7 linked regions of the Homo sapiens genome follow. The protein of the gene in region 7 interacts with the protein of the main gene of each other region in a biochemical or structural test. Each region holds a gene or a part of one and is shown on either strand. Other genes may lie near its edges.

Region 1 (4,267 bases), on a different chromosome or scaffold from region 7:
CTGGCAAGCTTCCCCACTGTGGGGGAGGGCTTATCATGAGGTCTGCTGGAGGAAACTAAGAGAGCTGAGCCTTAGGGGCTTAAATGAACTGCCTGAGGGGAAGCTGACACCCAGTGGGGCTGTAACCCTGGTTGGAGAGTTCATGTCTGCACCTGGCCTCGGCCTGCGTTCTCACTTGCTCTGCCCAACTGGCTGTGCCTTCAGCCGGCTCATCACCAGGAGATTTGGGTTGGAGCTACTGCTCAGCCACCATGAGCTACATGACCTTGAAGGCCGATCTTTGATTGTCCGCAGGATAATCCTGAAGGTTCTCAGGCCATGGACCTGTGAATTTCCCTTCTTTCAGTGTCTGCATCATTGGGAACCAAGCCCCTAACCAATGTTTATTCATTCGCTCAACCAATATTTGTGGAATATCACAGCCCTAGGGGTGGGGACACAGCAGGGAACAAGAAAGACAAGAATTATTGTCCTCAGTAGGTTACTGTGGAGTGGGGAGGCTGGCAGGAAGCCACGTAACTAGAATACACGTTAGGTCAAGGCAGTATTCCCACAGAGAAGATGGAACAGGGAAGGGGAGTGAAGGCCAGGATGGGAGGTCTACGGACTTAAGTAGGATGATCTGGGAAGTAGCATTTGAGTAGAGTCTGGAAGGAGGGATGGGAAAGAGTGTTCCAGGCAGTGGGAACAGCAGGTGCAAAGGCCCTGGGGCAGAAGTGTGCCTGGACTGTCAAGACTGTTGGGCTGTGTGTCTGGAGCAGGTAAAAGAGAGATAAGGTCAGCAAGGACCTGATAAGCAGAGCCTCATGGTCACGCTGAGGACTCCAGGACCTGTACACCGAAGGGAATGACAGGAGCTGACTCATGCCCTAGCAGGACTTCTCTGTCTGCTGTGTTGAGCGCTGGTGATGGGGGCGTGGGAAGAAGTTAGGAGCCATTACAGAGGTCCCGGTGGGCCATGATCAGGACACCACAATGCAGGTGGTGAGAATGGATCGGATTCTAGACATATCTCAAGGTGGAGGACCAAGACTTTCATCTAAATCTAAACAATAGTTATGAAATGTTAACTTGAGATGGATCTATTGGAATTATTCAGATACTTCCAATAATGGATCATGAGAACCAAGAAAGGCCCTAGAATTTATCCTGATCTTCGTAGGATTTTCCCAAGGGTAGAAATGATGATGAACTGGGTGACCGTTCACAAAGGAGAGAGGATTCCCAGCCCCCAAGCCTGAAGCCTTCCCCTCAATCACCCTCAATCACCATCTTCTGTGGGTCGACCAGATGCACGGACTGTTCTCAGCCATCCCTGTGGTTCTTACGGCAATGTCTAGCTGTGGGACTGCACTGGTGCTTCGATGGCTCATAGAAGCCCCATATAAGGCACTGCTCCTGTGGGATGTGCCTGTCAAACCTGCTTGTCCACTGCCGTTCAGTTCAGCCAGAGATTGGGCCACATTCAGTCCTCGCTTCCCTGGGAGGGGGAAGGTAAGTGCGCGCAGTCCATCCGGCGAAGAGCAGGTCAGCCTACGGAGGGCTCAGCCTACGGAGGGGCTCAGCCGACACAGGTCTGATGGGGCCCGAGAGTGGTCCCAGGGGAGTGGGAGGGGCCGGCATCTTCCTCATCAGGAGTGGAGGAGCTGCCTTGTATGTGGACTAGAGAACAGAAAACGGCTTGTCTGTGTTGCTGGGTCAATCACTGGAACATTCTCTGAATGCTGAGTTCTGCCTTAAAACAGCATGGGTCATGCTAGATGAAAGGGATCTCTGTTTTATACTCTCATCTCTTCGCTATTGCCGTGGGATGAAAGACAGCAGAAGGAAGGTGTCTAAGTTCAGAACAAAGTGAGCAAGACCAGCTGGCTGCTGTTGGTAGCAGAGGCACAGCCAGCCTGTCATGGCACTGGGGGGCCGAGGTGAGCTGTGCCCCCTCCTCCTGGGCTTGTGACCCTCTGCCCCCCATGGGGTATGTACATGTGTGTGTGTGCGTGTGCGTGTGTGTATGTGTACATGCCTTCTTCCCTACTTCACTGGCAAGGGAAGAGACTGACACTTGGGTTAGGAGAAGGATGTTGACCTGGGAGGGGTCAAATAAGGAGAACCCACATCTTAGATGCTCAGGATTTTATGATCTTAGGCTCTTCTAGAATTGCTGTACAGTTAGATTCAGAGTTTGGAATTAGAGATCTCTGGGCCCTCCCCTCCCCTCCCGTCCCCTCCCCTCCCGTCCCCTCCCCTCCTCTCCCCTCCCCTCCTCTCCCCTCTCCTCCCCTCCCCTCTTCTCTCCTTTTTCAGAAGTCTCCCTCTGTCGCCCAGGCTAGAGTTGCAGTGGCACAATCTCGGCTCACTGCAATTTCTGCCTCCTGGGTTCAGGTGATTCTCCTGCCTCAGTCTCCCAAGTAGCTGGGACTATAGGTGCACGCCACCACACCTGGTTAATTTTTTTATTTTTAGTAGAGACAGGGTTTTGTCACGTTGGCTAGGCTGGTCTCAAACTCCTGACTTCAGGTAATCCGCCCATCTTGGTCTCCCAAAGTGCTGGGATTACGGGCGTGAGCCACGGCTCCTGGCGCCTTCCCATTCACCTTCCCCTTCCCCTCCCCTTCCTCCCTCCCTCCCTCCCTCCCTCCCTCCCTCCCTTCCTTCCTTCCTTCCTTCCTTCCTTCCTTCCTTCCTTCTCTCTCTCCTTCCCTTCCTTCCTCTCTCTTTCTTTTCTTCTTTTCTTTCTTTCTTTCTCTCTCTCTCTCTTTCTTTCTTTTCCTTTTTTTGAGCCAGGGTCTTGCTCTGTCACCCAGGCTGGAGGGCAGTGGCACAATCATAGCTCACTGCAGCCTTGAACTCTTGAGCTCAAGCAATCCTCCTGCCTTGGCCTCCAAAGTGCTGGGATTACAGGCCTGAGCCACTGTGCCCAGCCCTAAGGTTTTTTGTTTTGTTTTGTTTTGTTTTACTGTTAGGACTAACCCTTATTTACACTGGGACAAGTTACAAAGAAACTCCTGCAATTGTTAACTGCCATTGGAGACTACTGTAAGTTGCTTCATGGCAACTGCAGAAGGGACTAGTGACTTCTATTTAGCTCCACCCACTGATGCTTGAAGTTCAGTGTGGCTCTGGGGGCTCCAGAAGCCTGAGGGGCAGCTGGCTGGGGCAGTTGGCTGGGGTCTGGAGAGTTCTGCAGAGCCCCTGTCTTCAGCTGCTGGTGAGGCAGCTTTGGCTTGAGCTGCCCTGGCTTTCTGAGTTCAGTCTGATGGGAGGGCACAGTCAGCACCCTCAGACCCTCCTCAGGAGTCTTGTGAGGCTCGGGCAAGTCAGGGGCAGAGGGACAATCCAACTAGAGGACCCTCCCAGACCCGGTCGTTGCCACCTGGACCCAGCCCCAGGAAGGCACCCGAGAAACCTGTAGTCCTCGGCTGACCACCAGTCCTGGTCCTCAGGATATCCGCAGAGACCTGGCTGTCCAGAACTCCCAGGGTTTCAGCTGCAAGCTGGAGATGTGGCCCCTTGGCAACTCGATATAGTAAGATACTGGAGAGCGTGCCAGAGTGTCATTTGCTAGAAACAAACATTATACTGCGGTAAGCCCTAGTTTTTCAGTCATTGGCTCTTTGGCACCAACTTAATCACAAGGCCATTGGCCCCAAAGAAAGGCCTTGTAGGCGACTGTTTAGGGACACCTGTATTTTCCATCTGCCTTGGAACCTCTAGGCTCAGGCCGAATGCCTATTGAAGTAGATGTTTCGTAAGAGATTTGGGGGCAAATACTGGGATTTTATAAAGATGCTGCACTCTCCTTCACTAAGTAGAAAGCTGAGAAATCCTGCCCTGAGGGGAAGAAACAGTTGTCTTCCTGACTGATGCATCCTAGACCAGCCAAGACTTCCTCCCGCTTTCCTTCTTCTAGAACTTTCCCCACTTCAGCCAGTATCTGTCATCCCCTGGGCTCCCACCCTCTCCATGTGCCGCTTTCATCGGGGCTGAGGGGAGCAGGAGAGGAGACGTTTCTGCTGGTGTCCCCGCTGTAGCTGGAGGAGCTCGGCGTCGGCGTGCCTTCGCCTCCCCTTGCCATGATGCCCCCTAAACCGAGTCTGTATTGAGAGAGAAAGGTGGCACCGTTGATCATTACTCCAGGACAAGAGTCATAAAAGGACTGTCCCAGACAACCTAGGACCCCAGTGTTCTGTGGCGAACACTTCTAGGATGAGGCCCATCTCCTTCTCTGTTTCATCAATTGGATTAATTTTATTGTTTTCTAAAATAATGA
Region 2 (2,968 bases), about 140 Mb from region 7:
GAGGCCAAGGTGGGCGGATCACGAGGTCAGGAGATTGAGACCATCCTGGCTAACACGGTAAAAAACTCCGTCTCTACTAAAAATACAAAAAATTAGCCAGGCGTGGTGGCGGGCGCCTGTAGTCCCAGCTACTCGGGAGGCTGAGGCAGGAGAATGGTGTGAACCGGCGAGGCAGAGCTTGCAGTGAGCCGAGATTGCACCACTGCATTCCAGCCTGGGCGACAGAGCGAGACTCTGTCTCAAAAAAAAAACAAAAAAAAAGAGTTCGAGACCAGCTTGGCCAACATAGTGAAACTCTGTTTCTACTAAAAATACAAAAATTAGCCGGGCCTGGTGGCAGACGCCTGTAATACCAACTACTTGGGAGGCTGAGGCAGGAGAATCGCTTGAACCTGGGAGGTGGAGTTTGCAGTGAACCGAGATCGCACCATTGCACTCCAGCCTGGGCGACAAGAGTGAAACTCCTTCTCAAAAAAATTTAAAAATTCTTTCCTTGCATTACTAAAAAAGATAAATAGCTTAACATAGTTTTTAAAAAATTAATTTACACAGATATCTGAGATTTACTGAAGCCCTTAAATCTTAGCATGTAAAATTTAATAAAATCAACTTTGCCTAGTAATTCTGATTTTATCCAGTAAAATTACTTGTTTAATTTTGTCTTTAATACAGTTGACACATTACTTTCTTAAAAGATTTGAGTGAAGTTGCAAGTTTTGGGGTTTATTTTTGAGACAGAGTTTACTCTTTTTGCCCAGGCTGAGTGCAATGGGATGATCTCAGCTCACTGCAACCTCCGCCTCCCAGGTTCAAGTGATTCTCCAGCCTCAGCCTCCCAAGTAGCTGGGATTACAGGCATGCGCCATCACATCCAGCTAATTTTTGTATTTTTAGTAGAGACAGGATTTCACCATGTTGGCCAGTCTGATCTTGAACTCCTGATTTCAGGTGATCCTCCTGCCTTGACCACCCAAAGTGCTGGGATTACAGGCATGAGCCACCATGTCCAGCCAGTTGCAAGTTATTAATATTTAGTTTTGATATTTTGCCCACAGTATAGACCTGATTTCGAATACTTTTTTTTTTTTTTTTTTTCCTGAGACAGAGCTCACTCTGTCACCCAGTCTGGAGTGCAGTGGCACTATCTCAGCTCACTCCAACCTCTGCAGGTTCAAGTGATCCTCCTGCCTCAGCCTCCCGAGGAGCTGGGACCACAGGCATAAGCCACCACGCCTGGCTAATTTTTTGTAGAGACAGTTTCACCATGTTGCCCAGGCTGGTCTCAAACTCCTGAGCTCAAGCAATCCTCTCGCCTGAGATTCCCAAAGTGCTGGGATTACAGGCATGAGCCACTGCACCCAGCAGGTTTTGAATATTCTTTATTGCACATTCATTTAGAAATTCCACCATTCTCACGGTTTAGAAAACCTGTCTGATTCCCCAGCACCTCAGGACCTCCAAGCTGCACATGGACACAGATCTCAGGAGCGTTAGTGCCTCCTAGCTCGGCTTCTGATTGAGTCGGTCGAGGGCCAAGTGCCTGTGGGCTTTGGTTGCCCACTGAAGTTTGACCTCATTTAGAGGATTCTTCTGGCACTGACTTTTCAAGGGACTGAAACAGTTACCCCTACAGATGGTGAAACCTCCTGTAAATCATTTTTTAAGGTCTTTTCTTCCCTTACCAGTCCAAAATGTTTCTAGTAATATCGTGGCATTTTTAGATATGCAGCTTTAGAGTGAAAAAACCCTGAAGTTTCACTGGCTTTGTGCCGTTTTGAGGAACTATGCATGACTGAGTATATAATAAAAGTAGTCATTTAGAAACCTATTTAGATGATCAAAGATAAAGTGGAAGGTTTTGAATATATTACAAAATTTTAGAGATGCTACACTCGTATATATTTATATGTAGATAACAGCTTTATTGAGATATAATTCACTTACCATACAATTCACCCATTTAAAGACTACACTTATTTTTGACAGATCACAGTGCTGATAGCTTAATAATGCAATGGGAACTCTGTATAATGGTGGTATTTGCAGTAAGACTAACACCAGATTCAGTTCTATCTGCCTTTTTCTGTATATTACGTTTTCATGAATAGGACATGATATGACATCCAATTCCATTTAATACTAAATAGTGAAATAAGGTTCTACTTGTATTAAAAGCAGTGTATCAGTACATTTCTACTAGTATGTTATTTAGATTATCCATAATTATAGTTACTATTCAACCATTATTATTCAAACAGCATATCTTACTTTTTTCCTAATTTAAAACATTACCTAGAAAAAACTTAATTGGTAGTTTTTAAAGTTACTCTTTTAATATGCACACCAGACAGATGTTAGAGGTTTTAATATCAATTTAATATAAACTGTGTTTTACCCTGGATTAAACTGAAATGTTTCTTGTTTGTAGGGAGCAGCTGCAGATGACGGCCGATTAAAACGAGGGGATCAGATTTTAGCTGTTAATGGCGAGACCCTGGAAGGTGTTACTCATGAGCAAGCAGTCGCCATTCTAAAACACCAGAGAGGGACTGTAACCTTAACTGTGCTGTCATGAGCCTCGGGCCTGATCACAAGATAGATGTTGTTGTTTAGAATATCCACAGGCAGATGAAGTTCTGAGTGGGTATGAAAAGCACCCTCAACTAAAATGCACCTTCATTCTTATTTCTTGCCCTCTCTGCTCAGGAGAAATGGCTGAGGTTTCATGTGAATTTCCCAAATCAACAATCATCTCCTAATGTTTCCCAGTTCCTGTCACCTGTTGGCGAGGTTGATTTCTAAAACTTAAATGAGTCTACCTGTTTTGCATTTAATTTCAGTGTTCCGATTTCTTTTTTTTTTTTTTTTTTTTTTTTTGAGACGGAGTCTCACTCTGTCACCCAGGCTGGAGTGCAATGGCGCAATCTTGGCTCACTGCAACCTCGGCCTCCCAGGTTGGAGCGATTCT
Region 3 (3,500 bases), about 47 Mb from region 7:
GAAGAAACAGGGCGGGAGGAAGAGTCTGGAAGAGGAAGGAGAGCAGACTGAACAGACTTAAGAAAGGGTGAACTCGCTCACCTGACCAGAAATTCCCACCCAGCCTCTCTGGGTGACGGCATCAGCTGTGGAAGAAGACGAGCAGTCTGGCGGGATCCACGGGCCCTGCATCCTCCAGCCAGGGGTTACTGTTGGGGAGGGAGATACATGCTGCAACAATGAGAATGGAAAACATGGCGGGGCTGGGGAGCTCAAAGGGCTTAAGATGCAGTTACTGTGATGGGATTGGTAGAGGGGACAGCATTCTCATTGAGAGCTTGCGTGAGAAATAACCTGGGGTCTTGGGTTTCAGGAGAAATCTCGGGTTTCCTGGCTGGGTCCCTGTTGTTTCCTTCTGCTTAGAATGCTTTTCCTCCTAACGCCACACCTCCTTCACGTCTTCATTCCAGTGTCCTCTTGGCCCAATCTGTTTAATACTGTAGCCAGCACTGTCCAGCCCCTAGCCCCATGCCCTGTTGTTGTTTTCTTCTTTCCGGTGGAAGTTACTGCCTTCTAACAAACTACATAATTGACTGAAGTGTCTTATTTTTGTATGTCCCTCCCCTAGAATGTAAGCTCAACATAGGCAGGGATCTTTTTGTTTTGCTTACTGTTGTATGCCAAGAGCCTGGGACAGTGCTGGCCATGGGAAGTTCTCAGTAAACAACTGTAGAATAAGTCAGTGTTCCCAGCCCCTTGGCTCCAAAGCTGCCCATAGGCTCTCCCATACGTGCCCTCTCCCTTTCCCTGCCTTACAATCTTCTCTCATCCGAAACAGGCACTGGGTCCCAGCAGAGGGTCCAAGGGAAGCACCAGGTCCTGCTAGAGGACCCTGAGCAGGAGGGCAGTGCAGAGGAAGAGGAACTGGGTGTCCTGCCTTGCCCTTCCACATCCCTGGATGGAGAGAACAGGGGCATCAGGACAAGGAACCCCATCCACTTGGCCTTCCCAGGCCCTCTGTTCATGGAAGGGCTCGCTGACTCCGCTCTGGAAGATGGTGAGTGCTTCAAGGCCCTGCCGTCAGCCCCTGGTCCCCAGTCGCACACCCAGTGTGAACTGGCAGGCGCCTGCACCCTCCACCTTCCCGAAGGCTCTTCCTGGTGTGCTTGAGGAGAGATGGATGCGGAGACAGATGTCATTCCCCACCCAACCCCCACCAGCTAGTTGGCCAGAGCCCTCCAGCTTCACCTGTGCCTGAGGTCACCACCTTGGGGTCAGTGGGGCAGTACAACGATCCTTCTGGCGTGGTGTGCAGTCCCATGCTGGGAAGACATCACCCTGTTTCCCCTCCAGTGGAGAACCTGCGACATCTGATCCTGTGGAGCCTGCTGCCAGGTCACACCATGGAAACTCAGGCTGCCCAGGAGCCCGAGGACGACCTGACACCCACACCTTCTGTCATCAGCGTCACCTCTCACCCCTGGGACCCAGGCTCCCCAGGGCAAGCACCCCCTGGGGGTGAAGGGGACAACACCCAGCTTGCAGGGCTGGAGGGGGAACGGCCAGAGCAGGAAGACATGGGTCTCTGTTCTCTGGAACACCTACCCCCAAGGACCAGAAATTCTGGGATATGGGAGTCTCCAGAACTGGACAGGAATCTGGCTGAAGATGCTTCAAGCACAGAGGCAGCAGGAGGTTACAAAGTTGTGAGAAAAGGTAAAATAAATGGGAGTGTCCAGTGGGGAGACAAGCACCCTTGCTAGGTGAGATAAGTCTTCCGAACAGCTGCTTCCTTCCCTATACTCCCCCTGGGTACCGTGTGAGCAGAGACCTACGCTGGGTCCTGGAAGAAGGAGACAACGCCGATATCAGGCAGGCTTTGGAGTTGGACATTCGAGATTCAGAGCTTAGCTCTGCCACTTAATATCTGTGTGGCTTTAGACAAAATTCTGAATCATCTCTGAACTTTGTTTTATAGCACATAAGGACATTTCTTTCTGCCTGGCACAAACCAACTACCAGTACCAGTCTCTGTTAGTGCTCCTCACTGATCTCCTGTTCCCAGGGAAAAGAGCCACTCTTCTCAGGAGCCTCAGGCCGGGAAAGACAGGGCAGGTGCATGCAGCCCCTCACGCCAGGCAACAGCTCCAAGGGCAGTAGAGGTGGCAGCTGGGACTGGAAGGGGTGGAGGACAAAGCTGGGAAGACATTTGGCGAGTGAGGGATGTGGGGAGTGAACAAGGTGGCAGGGAGGGCACCCCGGGTTGGGAAACACCATGGACGGCCTTGAGACAAGAAAAGCCAAGACAAGCTCACAGGGAGGCCAATAGATGAGCCCAGGGAGGAAGGTCCCCACCCCGGGAAGAGTGGGCTGGTCTGAGAGGGTGGCAAGAAAAGTAGAACAAAGCCTGGGGCACACATGGGATGGGGTTCCACGCTAGTGGGCCTGCCCTCCCCTGGGATTCCACTCTGCCTCCCTTCCAGCAGCATTTTTCATTCCATCTGCCCAAGGGCCACCTGTCTCCTGGGTTTCTGGGAACTGACCTTCCTTCTCTGTCTCTCGGTGAATTGGTGGAAAGTTCTCTGCACTGCCTGGGATGTCATCGTGTATGATCTTGTGTTCACCTTGTTCTTCCCATTTTCTCCTCCCCCTGTCCCCACCTCCTGCCCTCTCTCCTTCCTGTTCTCTCTCCCTTCCCTTTCCTTGTGTTTTGGTCTCTCCTCTTCCTGGTGGTGGTGGTGTCGGTGCAGCTGAGGTGGCAGGCAGCAAGGTTGTCCCTGCACTACCAGAGAGTGGCCAGTCAGAGCCTGGGCCACCTGAAGTGGAAGGCGGAACAAAGGCTACGGGTAATAACTTTCTCCTTGGAGCTAAAGACAGGCCAAGACTGGAGTGTGGAACCTGTGAGGGCAGAGTCGGACCCCTGCCCATGGTCACACACACACCCACAAGCTCCCTCAGCTGCCTGGAATGGGGAGGAGGAAGATCTGGCTCTAAAGACGGGGAGATCTGGTTCTAAAGGCTGGCTGTCCATCCAGCCTTAAGAAGCCACCTGTCCAGGCTCCTGTTCAGAATGGCAGGGATAAATGCCTGTGTGCAATTGTGGGAGGGGCAGGGAAGCCTGGCCTGGGGGTGGGGACCTAGTGTCCTTCACCTGATATGCAAGCAGCCACTTCCCCACCTCAGCCGCCGCTCCAGTGTCACTGTGGAAATCGGCTGAAAGAGCCTCCCAGATTCCGCGGTGGTTCTCTGTGCTTCCTGCCTGTCAGGAACCCTCCACGTCCTTCCTCCAGCTCTCTCTGACACCCCTTGGTTGGGTCAAGGGACCTCCAGAGGATCGTGGCATGGATGGAAGAGGGGCAGGGCAGGGCTGTAGTTCATCCAGAGCTGGAGTCAGGCAGGGCAAGAGGGCTGCTGCCTGCTCCTTTCAGAAGAGCCTGAAACCAGCTCACAATCTGTTTACTCAAGGAGGGGGAGCCACTCCAATTTCCCCAAATGAAACACTGCAGCTCTGCCACTTCTCC
Region 4 (3,500 bases), on a different chromosome or scaffold from region 7:
GACACCCTCTCTCCCCACACCCTCGCTCCTGCGCACGCACACACACTTGCAGCTCTCACCCCGTCGGTGAAGAAGCTCCGGAGCATCCGCAGGCTGGGTATGCGGTTTGGCAGGCGCCTGGAAAGCGAGGGTCGAGGGTGAGGGATGTGGGCAGCAAAGCTGGGACCTCACTATCTCGTCACCCACCAAACCCCAAGCCCAGAAGCCTTCCAGCGGGGGAGGCACACTGTCCCATGCATAGAGGACCCCCAGGGCCAAGAGCCCTGCCCCAGAGCAGCTGGCCACGGTGGCTGTGGCCACCCCACCCCGTGTCCGGACAGGGCCTCACCGCAGAACCCGGCCCTCGTCGCGGAAGGTGTTGAGTCCATCATCGCAGGACTTGGAGCGCTCCGTGGTGATGGCCAGCAGGTAGGAGGAGCGGCGGCCAGCCTTGATGCTGCCTGCAAAGCCGCCCACATCGGGCCTCAGGGTCAGCGGGGCAGCAGGTCAGGGGCTTCCCAGAGCCCTCCCTTCTGGGCAGGGGCAGGAGGTGACTCTCCCAAGGGGCCGCAGGAGAAGCGGAAACCAGAGGAAGAGGCCAGACATCAAGCAGCAGGCCCAACAGAGACCCCTGGGACTGGGCAGCGAGGGAGAGGGTGGGGCTGGGGGTGTGGGGAGTGCTCACTGCAGTCCTGCGAGTAATGGCGTCCGAGGGTGAAAGTGAAGGTCGGGGAAGATGGGCTGGTGCCCAGGACAGGGGCTGAGTTCATGGCACTGGAGACCACAGCAGAGGCAGGGACGTGCTTGGCTTGGAGGTCAATGCTGGGGCTGGTGGGCTCATCTATGCATGTGGAAGGAGAAAGGTGTGAAGGCAGCAGACAGCGGAGCCTGCCTGCCTCCACCCTAGCCTTGCCAGCCCCCGTGCCACTCGCCTCCAGGCTCAGACACATCCCAAAGGGTCCTGCTGGCAACATGCCCACTGTCAAGCATGACTGGCCCACTGTCCAGACTGTGGCCATGGAATCCTTACCCTCAGGAGTGGGGCTGAGCCACCCTCCTTAGACCGGGCTCCAGAGGACAGAGCCAATATTCCCCCATCAGACTGGGAGCCTGCTGAGGGCAGGGACGGTGTCTCCCTCATCAGACTGAGGGCACTCAGAGAGAATGAATTATGTCTCCCCTCTCAGACCAAGAGCCTCCTGAGGGCAGGGGCAGTGTCTTCCCCATCAGACTGAGAGCTTCCTAAGGGCAAAAGCTCCCCCATCAGCTGGGGCTCCTCAAGGGCAGAGATGACATCTCCCCCTCAAACAGACTGTGCTGTGGAAGAAGAGACTGCCTCTCCCGGCCACAGCCTAGAGCCTTCCTTACTAGCAGAAGGGGCTGTGTCTCTGCTCCACCGAAGGCTGGCTGGGGGAGCCAGGGCTGTGTCTTCCCCCTGCCCCAGGCCTCCTCCCTCTCACTGTCTGGTAGGGTGAGCTCATCTCCCATCTACCACCATCCCTCTCCATTACCCTGCATCTTGCTCTTTCTCCCCAGCCCCGTCTATCCTGCTCCCTCTTGGACACCTCATATTCAACAGTCCTGAACTTTGTCCCCCTCTCACTCCCAACACGGGGGTGAGGCACCACCCCCAAGCCCGGCCAGAAACCTGGGCATCACCCAGCCACTCTACTCTCTTGCCTCTCCCTCTCCTGCATCCAGTCGAAGGCAAGGCAAGCCTTAGAGGGTTCCCTCTGCTCTCAAAAGCCAACCCCAGTGACTAATGAGACCCTTGGGCCTGAAAGGGTCCTCACAACCTGGAAGGGGGTCCTGCCTCTCTCCCTTCAGGGTCTTTGCATATTCTATTCCCTCTCCTTGAATATTCTTCCCCTGATAAACTCCTTCTCATCCTTCAAGTCTTAGCCCAAATGTTCTTTCTCCAAGATTCTCACCATAGCCCTTCTCTGAGCCCGTCTCCTCAAGCTCCCTGTCCCACGACACGCCCATCCCAATGGATTGTCCCTGCATGTCCAACACCCTCTGCTGGGCCATCCAGTCCAGGAGAGCATGGAGCCATGCACAGGGCCTGACACAAATATCTGTTGAGTCGATGGAGGGATGGAGGGTGGATGGAAAGGACAAAGAGGGAAAGATACAAAGGGAAGATGGAAGGAAGAATGGGAGAATGGAAGGAAGAGTCAAAGGAAAGAAAGATGGATGAATGGGTGGAAGAAAGGATGGAACAAATGAATGAACAAAAGAAGGAGGGAGAGAGGAAGGAAAGAAGGAAGAATAGATGGATGGATAGATGGATGAATGGATGGAACAAATGAATGAACAAAGGAGGGAGAGAGGAAGGAAAGAAGGAAGGAAGAACAGATGATGGATGGATGGATGGATGGGGAGAGGGAAAAAAGAAAGAGTGCGTGGAAAGATGCTGAAAGGATAAATGAATGAGAGGTAGGATGGAAGAAAGGATGACAGAGAACAGAAAGAAAGATGGAAGAACAGATGGATGGATGGATGAACAGATGAATGAATTGACAGAGAAACAAGATGATCCCACCAGCACCCAGCCGAATTCTGCCCATGGCAGACAGGCAGATGGGGTACAGCAGGACACAGACAGCCGACAGCTAAGTCCCCCAGGACAGCCACATGTACCATCACTCACCAATAAAGGGGATGGAAGCCAGAGAGTCTTCGGTGGTGGCCAAAGGGGCCACCTTCCTGCCCAGGCGTTCCCCTCGCCCACTGGCCTCTGGCTCTGGGGACTCGTCACCAAATCCAAGGTTCATCTGTCTTGCGGGGGTCAGCTGAACCTTGCGGCCCGTCGGGGGCTTCTGCCTCAGGACCACCTCATCGCCGCGATCCTCCGCAGGAGGCTCCAGGGCCCGGGTGCTGGGTTCCGGCCGTACAACCCTGGGTGGCTCGGAGGCCTCTGGTGGGAATGACGCAGGGGACTGGGCCAGGTTGAAGGTAGGCAGCCCCCCAAAGGGTGAGTCCCGGAAGGAGAGCGCATGGAGGAGGCCGGTCCGGCGCTGGAATGATGGGCTGTAGCTCCGGTAGCCGATGTACCCGAGGTCATCCAGGCCCTGCAGGCCAGACGGGGGTGGGGCCTGGGGCCCTGGCAGGTCCCGAGTTGGGCAGGCGGGGGTGCGGGCAGACGAACGCTGGGAAGCCCAGCCACACCGCTCAAAGCGGGGTGACACCAGTGCCCCTGGCCCCAGTGCCTCGGCAGAACGGGTGGCCCGGCTCAAGTAGTCATCTGAGCGAGCTCGGTGCCAGCCCTCCTGGCCCAGCTGGCTCAAAGCATCCTGGGAGGTGGAGCAGGGCCACGGGCGGGGGGCAGCCACCTCCTCCAACCGGTCCTGGGAGGCGCTGCGGGCCCGGGGGGCCATGGCTGGGCACCGTCTCTCCCCCGCCCGGCGGGGTACCTGGTTTGACAGCCAGTGTGACAAGGCCTGCTGGCACTCCAGTCTGCTGGGGGGCACCCGGCTGCCAGGCTCTGGGAAGGCACGGGGCGTCCGGGGCTCCGAGGA
Region 5 (3,500 bases), on a different chromosome or scaffold from region 7:
TATATGAAGTTAAGCTTTACAAATTCAACTTAGTGTAACATTCCTACTACTTGGCTAGAGACATCATCCATCCATCCATTCTTCTGATTATCTATCTACCCATCCATTCATCCTCCCATCCCTCTTGTCATTCTTTTATTTATCCACCCATCCATCCTTCTTTTCTTTCTTCCTCCCTTCCTCCCTTCCTTTCTTTCTTCTTTCCTTCCTTTCTTTTTTATATCCATCCTTTCATCCATTCATTCATCCATCCGTCTATTTATTCCTGGTAGGTGCTAAGATATTTATTGAATTAAGTAATTAATTTAAAAAACCTTTACTGAGAGACCTAGTATATGCTCGGCATTGTGCCAAGCACTGTGGAGGGGATAAAGATACATAAGATATTATCCCAAGTGACATGAAGCTTAAAATCTCATTGAAGAGATGAACATTACACATACATTAACACAATACAAGCTGAATGGAACAGGTGTGTTAAGAGGTGCCCTATGAATTTATTATTGGCTGTGGGGATATTATATGGAGGGAAATCTAAGTTTCAGTGATAAAATTAACAGGCTAACACCAAACTGAATATTCTTCATCTCTTTCTTTTGTCTCTTTGCTTATTTGTTTTATTTGTTTTGTTTTCTAAAATTTGTTCTTTGACAGACTCTGTGGCAACAGCATCCGGGCCACTACTAGTCGAAGTTGCCAAAACTCCTGGTGCCAGCCTTGGGGTTGCCCTAACTACCTCGATGTGCTGTAACAAACAAGTCATTGTCATAGACAAAATCAAATCTGCAAGTATTGCAGACAGGTAAGTATTGTAGAAAGTGCCTACTTTTCCGCCAGGCGCAGTGGCTCACGCCTGTAATCCCAACACTTTGGGAGGCCGAGGCGGGTGAATCACCTGAGGTCAGGAGTTCGAGACCAGCTTGGCCAACATGGTGAAACCCCATCTCTACTAAAAATACAAGAAATTAGCCAGTCATGGTGGCAGGTGCCTGTAATCCCAGCTACTCGGGAGGCTGAGGCATGAGAATCACTTAAACTCGCGAGGCAGAGGTTGCAGTGAGCTGAACCATTGCACTCCAGCCTGGGCAACAAGAGTGAAACTCCATCTCAAAAAAAAAAAAAGAAAGAAAGAAAGAAAGAAAGTGCCCCTTTACAAAATTGCATGTGTGCAATTTTAAATATATATACATACATATGTACACACACTTGTAATACACATATACACATGCATATACACATACACACACACACACACACAGTTCTCTTGCCAGTTTATACAGGTTTCACACACAGAAGCAAGTTACTGTTACAGGGCTTAAAAATTCACCTATGTGTCAGCCACCCCATGATGTCACTTCACGTCATCCAGATGTTTGGTGTGGCCTTTAGCAATAGAAAAAAAAATCAAGCAACTAAGCAAGTTTTCTTACTGTGTCCTAGGGCACTAGCCTGTTCTTAATGTAGGGTAGCTGAGTAGATCTTTCTTAAACCCCATGCAGAGCAGTGATGGGTTTTCCTGAATTGTTGACAATTAAATCCTGCTACCATAAAATCTGATTTCTTTGTTTCTTAAATAAATAAAACAATACTTTTTAAAATATTTTTTACAATACTTTTAAAAAGTCCTATACTCTCATAGCATGTTAATCTTAGGATTTTACAACCTTCGAGGGTGTCTTAAAACATCATTCGCTTCAATGCCACAATAAAAATGAAATTTCATGTTTCTAATTAATATTTTATACTCGTAAGGTAAAAGGGGAAGATAAAAAAAGACTACCTTTCCATCTAATTAATTATTTTACAGCTCCTGGTAAGAAAAACCTCATCTCCCATAGCTAAAGCACTCCAAGTGCAAAAAATGTGGAATTATGTTTTTAGTTGGAAGATATGACTTGAAATGCTTTTGTCTTGAGACGTAGACTATTCACACTGGGAATTTATAGATATACTGCACCTGAATGACCAGTCTCCCCTGTATGTTTCCAGCCCTCTTCTCCACGTGCCCCTCAACCTGCCTTTCCACCTCCAGCCATGGTGCAGTGAACTGCAGCAACCCCCCGTAGTGGTCAGTCTACATCTCCATTGTGGTCTTACCCAACATTCAGTCCTTATCAGTGACAGCCATTGATCCAGGGGTGTTGTGCAGTTCAATGGCACAGGATGCTTTAATTTTCTCCCTCTGTTTTTTCCCATTCCACAGGGGGTAACCAGTTTAAGGAGCTGTTCACTTGACTGGTATGTGGGGATGCTGACGACTGCGCTAGCTTTTCTTAACTCATCCAGTAGCCAGCTCTTGAGTTCAGCAAGATGTAGCAGCTAGCCCCTTCCCTGCCCCCATCTTTCCCCTTGACTCACCATGCAGGCCTGGTTTTATTACTCACTTGACTCCTGCATAATTTCTACCATTATCAAGAGCTTTTATACTAATACATGTTCAACTCCAGAATAACATAATAATAAAGAACTGGTGATCTTGGAGTTTGTGTGAGGATTCCAAGGAAGTATTACTGAAATCTCCCCAAGTTATTCTTCTTTACACATAAAATAGACCCTATTCCAATTCTGAGAGTCATGTTTGAGATTCTGAAGATTTACCCACTCATGTTTATAGATAGAAAAGCCTAGAACAAAAAAACACAGACAAAAGTCCAGGGGAAACATTTTCCTGTTTTTCCCTTTCCTCTTGCTCGCTTTCCCTCAACTTTCCACACAAGCACTCCAAAATAAGATTTTTTTTTTAAAGAAAGACAAGAGAAAACATTTCGTTGAATTTTTCTCTATTTTCCACAAGGTTTTACTTCCTTGTTCATATTCAAGGTACTTAAAATTTGGCAGATGGTGTTTCCTATAACACTCAAACTTTTCTTTTCTTTTATTTTAAGTAAATGAAAAACTGTGAAATTTTAACTATGAAGGACATGAAAGTCAGATTCCAAAGAGGAAGGCACTGCCTCTTACCGAGTATTTCTCCTTTCCGTAGATGTGGCGCATTGCATGTGGGAGATCACATCCTCTCCATCGATGGAACCAGCATGGAGTACTGTACACTTGCAGAAGCAACCCAGTTCCTGGCCAACACCACTGACCAGGTCAAGCTTGAGATCCTTCCCCATCATCAGACCCGGCTGGCCCTAAAGGGGCCCGACCATGGTGAGATGGTCCACCTGGATCAAGCTCTTTCTCTGGCCCTCACAGTGTTGCTCCCTCTAGCAGAGTTAGACAGCAGAAAGACACTGGGTCTCATTCTGCCTTTTTTTTTTTTTTTTTTTTTTGAGATGGAGTCTCACTCTGTCCCCCAGACTGGAATGCAGTAGCATGATCTCGGTTGACTCCAACCTCTGCCTCCTGGGTTCAAGCCATTCTCCTACCTCAGCCTCCCGAGTAGCTGGGATTACAGGTGACCGCCACCATGCCCAGCTAATTTTTGTATTTTTAATAGAGACAGGGTTTCACCATGTTGGTCAGACTCATCATTTCTTTTCAAAACAAGGTTATGT
Region 6 (3,500 bases), on a different chromosome or scaffold from region 7:
GGTAGAGTCTGAATCTAAAATCCACTAAAAGCAAAAGTAGGAGAAAATAAGCCCCAAAAGGAGTGAGCAGGACAGAGAATATGTTCATGAAGGCAGGAACCTTGAGGCTGTTGTCTTCCCTCTGAGTCCCTCCAGCTCAATAAATAGCCCACAGCTCAATAAATAGCTGACAAATGGATGAAAGGAACTGGAGGGCCTAAAAATGAGCTGTGCATTTTCTAACATTGCCAGGACCTGTCCTGGGAGCCAGTTCTCAAAATGGTGTTCTGCCATCACTCTCAGCTGTTGCATGGAAAGTAATCTTGAAAGTTGAGTGGGGCCAGGCGCATTGACTCACACCTATAATCCTTTGGGAGGCAGAGGCAAAAAGATTGCTTGAGCCCTGGAGTTTGAGACCAGCCTGGGCAACATGGTGAGACCCCATTTCTATAAATTTTAAAAATTAACCAGGGCATGTTGGTACACACCTGTAAGTCCCAGCTACACAGAAGGCTGAGGTGGGAGGAGTGCTTGAGCCCAGGATGTCGAGGCTGCAGTGAGCTGTGATTGCACCACTGCACTCCAGCTTGGGTGACAGAGCAAGACCCTGTCTCAAAAAAAAAAAAAAAGAAAAGAAAAGAAAGTTGAGTGGGATACTTAGGCTAGGTAAGACTTTTGCTCTTTGGGGTAAGTGAGCAAAAGAAAATGGATGGCACAGATAATAAATATAATGAGAAGGGATCTGAATGCTGATGGCGACTCCCCCTGACATACTAGGTGGGCTGGTGAATAATGACACCTCTAGTCAACATTTTCTTTGCTAGAAGAAAATAGTGGAAGAAAAAAGGAAAGTTCTTGAGGTAGAGTTCTCACTTGTATCTAGCCTTTTGCAGAGATGCCCAGGCTGACCTGCTTCCTCCCACCGTCATCAATTTATCACCTGGAGGTGACACATGAGAAAAAGAGACTATATGGTGCTTTTAAGAATTAAAGTCAATAGACATGCACTTATTGACCACTCAGCCTCTTATCATTACCTGGACCAACCAGAAGGGACTCTGCATTTCCTTTTCCCTACACAGCACACATCCAATATTGCACTGCATCCTTTGCAACTTATTTTTCCATGCAAGAATTTCTCCTAATTTTTAAACCCAATTTCGTTAATATGAGATGCAAGAAATGAGGCCAACTAGATAGATCTGACCGAAGTACCAAATCCCCAGTGATCCTTCATCATGGTTGCATCCGTCACCCCAGCATGTAAGTAATTCAGCAAGTATTTACTAAGCACAAAGTGAGTTTAGACCAGGATGGGAGCCCACGTTTTGCTAACATCTCTCCAGAATTGGAGTTTAAGGGTAATTTTCCAAGTTGTAGCTCTAGCAGAGGCTTCTATTGCAAGTCTATGAGTATTAATTTATGACTATGGTTATTCTAAGGATGGGATTTTAAGGCATAATCCTAATTTTAAATACTCTGACCTCTTGTCAAGCATGTATTAGCCCTTGTGTCCTACATTTGGGGGTTAGAAAATATGAATATTTACAATACTACAAATGAGAAAAAGGAGATTAAATTGTTTTTTTTTTAAAGGTTGAGATTAGGTTAAGGGCTATAGCAGCCAGTCAGATGGAGCCTTGAAACATTCCATGACTTTGCGTCATGACTAATTCTTACTGACATCCTCTCCAAGAGGCCGGTGTTTGAAATGCTCCAAGATAAGAACAATTCAGTTCTACTAATGAACCAAAGGATTTCTACTCCTTATGAGACTCTTAGGCCAGATTTCTGCACGGCCAGTTTATGTAACTTGGTACTTCAGGACAGACATTCCCTACACAAAAATAACTAAATTGCAGTGTATCTCCTGCTATCCAAAAATCCTTTAGCGTAAACCAGAACAAAACGTGCTGATAAAAGTCAAACAGTGAGTTTCACTTGTGGACTGAGACGAGAGAAAAGCTAAGCTATGGTTATAGGGTTTTTTGTTTTTCTAAGTAATACAAAGCTGTGCAAAAAAGATGTCTTTTTCTTTTTTATCAAAATGACAACTCTGCAAATACAGCAATCTTCTGGACAGCAAATACGTGTCAGTTAGAGAAACAAATGCCATTAATATTATCATGCTTCAGGATGTCATTGCAGATGAATAGCAAAAGGCCATGGAACAATATGAAATTTGAGTTTTTGTTTCTCAACCCAAGTCAAACTTTTATTGTAAGTTATGTGACCTTTGACATTGGAATAAAATACACTTTCTCACTTACTTATTGGGGAAAAAACTATACCATCCAAGCCCAGCCACAGATATTAAATATTAGTATGTTTATTTCTGGGGGTTTTTTTCCCCTGTGAATAGGTTTAAGCTAAGGAGACATTTTCTTATATGGTTATAGGAATAGTTGATATAAAATTTTAATATCTAGATTTTTAAAATGTGGCCGGGCATGGTGGCTCACGCCTGTAGTCCCAGCACTTTGGGAGGCCGAGGCAGGTGGATCACCTGAGGTCAGGAGTTTGAGACCAGCCTGGTCAACATGGTGAAACCCTGTCTCTACTAGAAATACAAAAAATTAGCCAGATGTGGTGGCACACGCCTGTGGTCCCAGCTACTGGGGAGGCTGAGGCAGGAGAATCACTTGAACCCAAGAGGTGGAGGTTGCAGTGAGCCAAGATCGCACCACTGCACTCCAGCCTGGGCAACAGAGTAAGACTCCGTCTCACAAATAATAATAATAATAATTTTTCCATGCTATCATCAAATAGCTAAGTTTTGTTTCTCTGAGTTTAGACTTGAATCTTAGGCTTAAAGGGCACGTTAGTTGTTGTTTAGATCAACTCCCAGCACCTGAATAAATGCCTTCCATGCAATCCTGAACACAATCTATTTTTCTCTATTTTTCTGTACAAAAATAGACAAAATGGTCCATTTTTTAGTACGAAGTGTTGCTCTTGACTAAGAGTATGTTAATGAAGCTCTTTGTCCTTTTTCAAAGCTTACATTCTCAAACCATAACCCTCATATTTGCTTAATGTTAGTGGAACAACTCAAAGGTATACTGTGCCTGTCACAATACAAGAAAGATGCTTTCAGAAACAAAAATGGTTCTTATCTAAATAAGAAGAAAGCTGTCTCCATTTCCATAAAAAGGATTGCATCCTTGCCAGAGAAGATAATAGAGTTTACATACACAGTCAAGAAGAGTGTGGGATAAAGTCATTTTTATTTTCACAAATAAAAAGTGTTTTGGTAACTGGAAGGCAGCCCATATAAAACAAGCTTTCATAGTCACCATTTCCTCAAGCTCTTCCCAGTGAGAGATGGGAAACACTTGAAACTGCTCACTGGAGAAAAAAGGATGATGAGGGTGACTTTACTGTTTATTTGAGGGGTGAGTATGAGGAGGAAGTGATTCTAAACTTCAAACGTGATGAAATATAATTTCTTCATCATGCCTTGATCAAATATAAGATCACTTCATAGAGTTTGTTTCTCTTATATGCCCACCATTTTTTCA
Region 7 (3,500 bases):
AAGACAGCGTTTCCCCATGACATTGGGACAGGAGTTAGCTCTTCTAAGTCTGCTGTCTTCATCTGCTTATGTAGATGGTAACTTACAGGCCTTAGCTTAGCACTTATGTGTCAGCCACTGTAATAAGCATTTATATGCACTATCTGTATTCTTCAAAAATGACCTTGTGAAGTAGGTATTATTATCCCCATTTTATGGGTGAGGAACTTGAGGCTCAAGGAAGTTAAGTAGCTTTCTCACAGTCACTCAGCTAGGAAGTGGCCAGATTCCAAGTCTAGGTGGGTCGTGGGAGCTGGGCCATCGACAGGGCAAAGGTGGGCTGGTTTCAGAGAAAAGCTAAAAGGACTGGTTCTTCTCCCCGCCAGGATTCCCCATTGAAAGCTGTGCAGATGTTGTGGGTTAATCTGATCATGGACACTTTTGCTTCATTGGCCCTGGCCACAGAGCCCCCTACGGAATCTCTGTTGAAGCGGCGCCCCTATGGCCGAAATAAGCCTCTGATCTCACGCACTATGATGAAGAACATCTTGGGCCATGCATTCTATCAGCTCATTGTCATCTTTATCCTTGTCTTTGCGGGTGAGCCACTTTGGGGGTGGGTAGCAGCTGGGGTCCTGGTTGGAGGTGGGGGCAGAGAAAGAAGGTAGCGTGAGAGCAAGTGCACAGGTCAGGAATAAGCGCAGCTTCACCTCCCAGTGCTTGCTGTGCTCCCGCTACACGGTGCATTATGCTACTATATGTACTCATACAGTACTCTTGAGTACAGTGTGTACTGTGTGTACTCAAGAATTTCACAAGGGAGGCTTTATTATTTCTTTCTTTCTTTTTTTTTTTTTTTTTTTCTTTTTGGAGACAGAGTCTCGCTCTGTCACCCAGGCTGGAGTGCAGTGGCGCTAACTCGGGTCACTGCAACGTCTGCCTCCCAGGTTCAAGTGATTTTCCTGCGTCAGCCTCCCAAATAGCTGGGATTACAGGCATGCGCCACCACACCCGGCTACTTTTTGTATTTTTAGTAGAGATGGGGTTTCATCATGTTGGCCAGGCTGGGCTCGATCTCCTGACCTTGTGATCTGCCCACCTCAGCCCCCCAGAGTGCTGGGATTACAGGCATGAGCCACCACGCCTGGCTTATTTCTTTTTTTACAGATTCAAAAAATTAACCTCAGGTCCCATAATGAGTACATAGTTGCAGTAAAATTCAAACCTATGATTGCCTGACTCCAGCGCACATAGTCTTACTACCATGCTGCACTACATGAGAGCAAGTATCAATGCAGCAAACTGAGAGAGAAGGTAAAATAAGTCAAGACCAGAACTAACATTTAAAATGTTTAATAACTAGTACAACAAAAAATTAGCCAGGCATGGTGGTGCACGCCTGTAGTCCCAGCTATTTGGGAGGCTGAGATGGAAGGATCACTTGAGCAGGAAGGTCCAGGCTGCAGTGAGCCATGATCATGCCACTGCGCTCCAGCCTGGGTGACAGAGTGAGACCCTGTGTCAAAAAAATAAATAACTAGTGCAGCTCAGATATTGATTAATTAGAATGGACACCAGCCATAAGCAAGCAGTATATCTGTACCAACACATTCTTACTCTTAGTTCAGACCACACTTAACCTCCAGTGCTTCTCCTCTCCCCACTAGGTGAGAAATTCTTTGATATTGATAGTGGGAGGAAGGCACCTCTACATTCACCACCCAGCCAGCACTATACCATTGTTTTTAACACCTTCGTGCTGATGCAGCTCTTCAATGAAATCAACTCCCGAAAGATCCATGGAGAGAAGAACGTCTTTTCAGGCATCTACCGCAACATTATCTTCTGCTCTGTAGTCTTGGGCACATTCATCTGCCAGGTGAGATTCTATCTGCAGTTGGGGCAGGAGATCTGGAATGATAAAGGGCAGAAGCTGGGAGCCAGGGTTCCCTACATACCTAGGAAAAGGAATGAAGGAATTACGGGGACTGGAGCTGTAAGTTGAACACTTTGGGATTCCCAATCTGCTTTCTTTTGCATATTGCTCTAGAATTGGAGCCCATTGTGTCAAGAGCTCCAGTGCAGGGCAGCATGTTGACTGGAAATAAAATAATACTTCTAAAATCCTTTCATGATCTTTCTAAATACACAGAAATTTCACAGAATGACCAAAAGAAGTATTCTCTTCTAGTCCCTTTCTATGGCTCCTGTCAGCCTATATGAAATGTGCATGCACATCTAGTATAGACTCTCCCTGTCCCTGCCCTTTGTTCTGAAGGGCTTATGATAAAAAGTGTTGTGCAACTCAAAGAAAGAGAAGTAATGGGATTTGTACATGTATATTACATAGTCAGCCCAGCTTGGACTCCTCCAATATGAGACTATGAGCTGATCATGTCCCATCCCTCAGCAGGGCACCTCCCTTTATTTGTCCCCATCCTCAATTCCTTTTTTTTTTTTTTTTTAATTTTAAAAATACAGATGGGGTCTCACTCTGTTGCTCAGGCTGGTCTCAAACTCCTGGCCTCAAGCAATCCTCCCGCCTCCCAAAGTGTTATTACGCCTGCCATTTTTTCTTTTTGTTTTTTTTTTTTTCGTTTGAGACAGATATCTCTCTCTCTCTCTCTCTCTCTCTCTCTCTCTCTCTCTCCCTCTGCCTCTCTCTCTCTCTCTCTTTTCCCCCCTCCCCCAGGGGGAGTGCAGCCTCAGTCTCCCAGGTTCAGGCAATCCTCCCACCTCATCCTCAGTTCCTAACTCCATCACTGTACCTTCTCCTTGTCACTAACTGGCTTTAGTCACAAGAAGCCACCAGCTCCCCTAACTCCTCCAGATTGTCTGTTAATCATAGTCACAGTAACTATGTCTGTCTCCCCATCAGAGTGCTCTTAAAGGCTGTTTTTGTCTGTCTCCCCTTTGAGATTTCTTCTTTTCCCTTCCCCTGCAAGCAAATCGGGACTTGTACCCAAGGATCCTGAGGAGTGGGATGATGTGGCTTTGGGGGCCTTGGCTGGAGGGCCAGCTGCCTGTTAGTCATTTCCTTGATGGTGGGCTGCCCCTTTCTCTGTTCTAGATTTTCATCGTGGAATTTGGGGGTAAACCCTTCAGTTGTACAAGCCTCAGCCTGTCTCAGTGGCTGTGGTGTCTCTTCATTGGGATTGGAGAACTTCTGTGGGGCCAGGTGAGTACCGGCACACCCTCCTGGTGCATTCTCACAGCCTGCAGAACTCCCCTCCTCTACATGAGATGGAACAAGCAACGGTGGAGACCCCCCAGCTCCTCATCTTCATCTTCTCCTCTTCCCTCCCCACCCCCACTCAAGTTTTCAAGTTCTTGCCATCTCATAGGATCTCAAGGTGGAATGATCACTTCAGAGGTTTCAGAATTCTTCTCTAACTAAGCCTGGAGGTAGAAAAATCCCTTAGCTTGGCTGGGCGCAGTGGCTCACACCTGTAATCCCAGCACTTTGGGAGGCCGAGGCAGGCAGATCACGAGGTCAGGAAATCAAGACCGTCCTGGCTAAC

The links.
Region 1: the proteins of ATP2B4 (region 7) and CARD14 interact in a test that uses a peptide from one of them, tested with the Homo sapiens proteins (one large-scale study listed by IntAct).
Region 2: the proteins of ATP2B4 (region 7) and PATJ interact in a test that uses a peptide from one of them, tested with the Homo sapiens proteins (one large-scale study listed by IntAct).
Region 3: the proteins of ATP2B4 (region 7) and ARHGEF11 interact in a test that uses a peptide from one of them, tested with the Homo sapiens proteins (one large-scale study listed by IntAct).
Region 4: the proteins of ATP2B4 (region 7) and ARHGAP23 interact in a test that uses a peptide from one of them, tested with the Homo sapiens proteins (one large-scale study listed by IntAct).
Region 5: the proteins of ATP2B4 (region 7) and GRIP1 interact in a test that uses a peptide from one of them, tested with the Homo sapiens proteins (one large-scale study listed by IntAct).
Region 6: the proteins of ATP2B4 (region 7) and PDLIM3 interact in a test that uses a peptide from one of them, tested with the Homo sapiens proteins (one large-scale study listed by IntAct).

Annotation. Positions count from the first base shown.
Region 1 is NC_000017.11:80,168,563-80,172,829, forward strand, and holds the start of CARD14 (caspase recruitment domain-containing protein 14), read left to right. Parts: upstream 1-1,467; 5' UTR 1,468-1,494; exon of another isoform or gene 1,495-1,574; intron 1,575-4,267. UniProt on the Homo sapiens protein: Acts as a scaffolding protein that can activate the inflammatory transcription factor NF-kappa-B and p38/JNK MAP kinase signaling pathways.
Region 2 is NC_000001.11:62,158,480-62,161,447, forward strand, and holds part of PATJ (inaD-like protein), read left to right. Parts: intron 1-2,428; coding exon 2,429-2,575; 3' UTR 2,576-2,968.
Region 3 is NC_000001.11:156,937,743-156,941,242, reverse strand, and holds part of ARHGEF11 (rho guanine nucleotide exchange factor 11), read left to right. Parts: intron 1-169; exon of another isoform or gene 170-185; coding exon of another isoform or gene 186-188; intron 189-817; coding exon 818-1,036; intron 1,037-1,332; coding exon 1,333-1,695; intron 1,696-2,729; coding exon 2,730-2,825; intron 2,826-3,500. UniProt on the Homo sapiens protein: May play a role in the regulation of RhoA GTPase by guanine nucleotide-binding alpha-12 (GNA12) and alpha-13 (GNA13). Acts as guanine nucleotide exchange factor (GEF) for RhoA GTPase and may act as GTPase-activating protein (GAP) for GNA12 and GNA13.
Region 4 is NC_000017.11:38,466,464-38,469,963, reverse strand, and holds part of ARHGAP23 (rho GTPase-activating protein 23), read right to left. Parts: coding exon 2,633-3,500; intron 821-2,632; coding exon 665-820; intron 441-664; coding exon 329-440; intron 118-328; coding exon 60-117; intron 1-59.
Region 5 is NC_000012.12:66,462,577-66,466,076, reverse strand, and holds part of GRIP1 (glutamate receptor-interacting protein 1), read left to right. Parts: intron 1-654; coding exon 655-802; intron 803-2,983; coding exon 2,984-3,153; intron 3,154-3,500. UniProt on the Homo sapiens protein: May play a role as a localized scaffold for the assembly of a multiprotein signaling complex and as mediator of the trafficking of its binding partners at specific subcellular location in neurons.
Region 6 is NC_000004.12:185,518,508-185,522,007, reverse strand, and holds part of PDLIM3 (PDZ and LIM domain protein 3), read left to right. Parts: intron 1-3,500. UniProt on the Homo sapiens protein: May play a role in the organization of actin filament arrays within muscle cells.
Region 7 is NC_000001.11:203,720,832-203,724,331, forward strand, and holds part of ATP2B4 (plasma membrane calcium-transporting ATPase 4), read left to right. Parts: intron 1-365; coding exon 366-579; intron 580-1,646; coding exon 1,647-1,858; intron 1,859-3,049; coding exon 3,050-3,157; intron 3,158-3,500. UniProt on the Homo sapiens protein: Calcium/calmodulin-regulated and magnesium-dependent enzyme that catalyzes the hydrolysis of ATP coupled with the transport of calcium out of the cell. By regulating sperm cell calcium homeostasis, may play a role in sperm motility.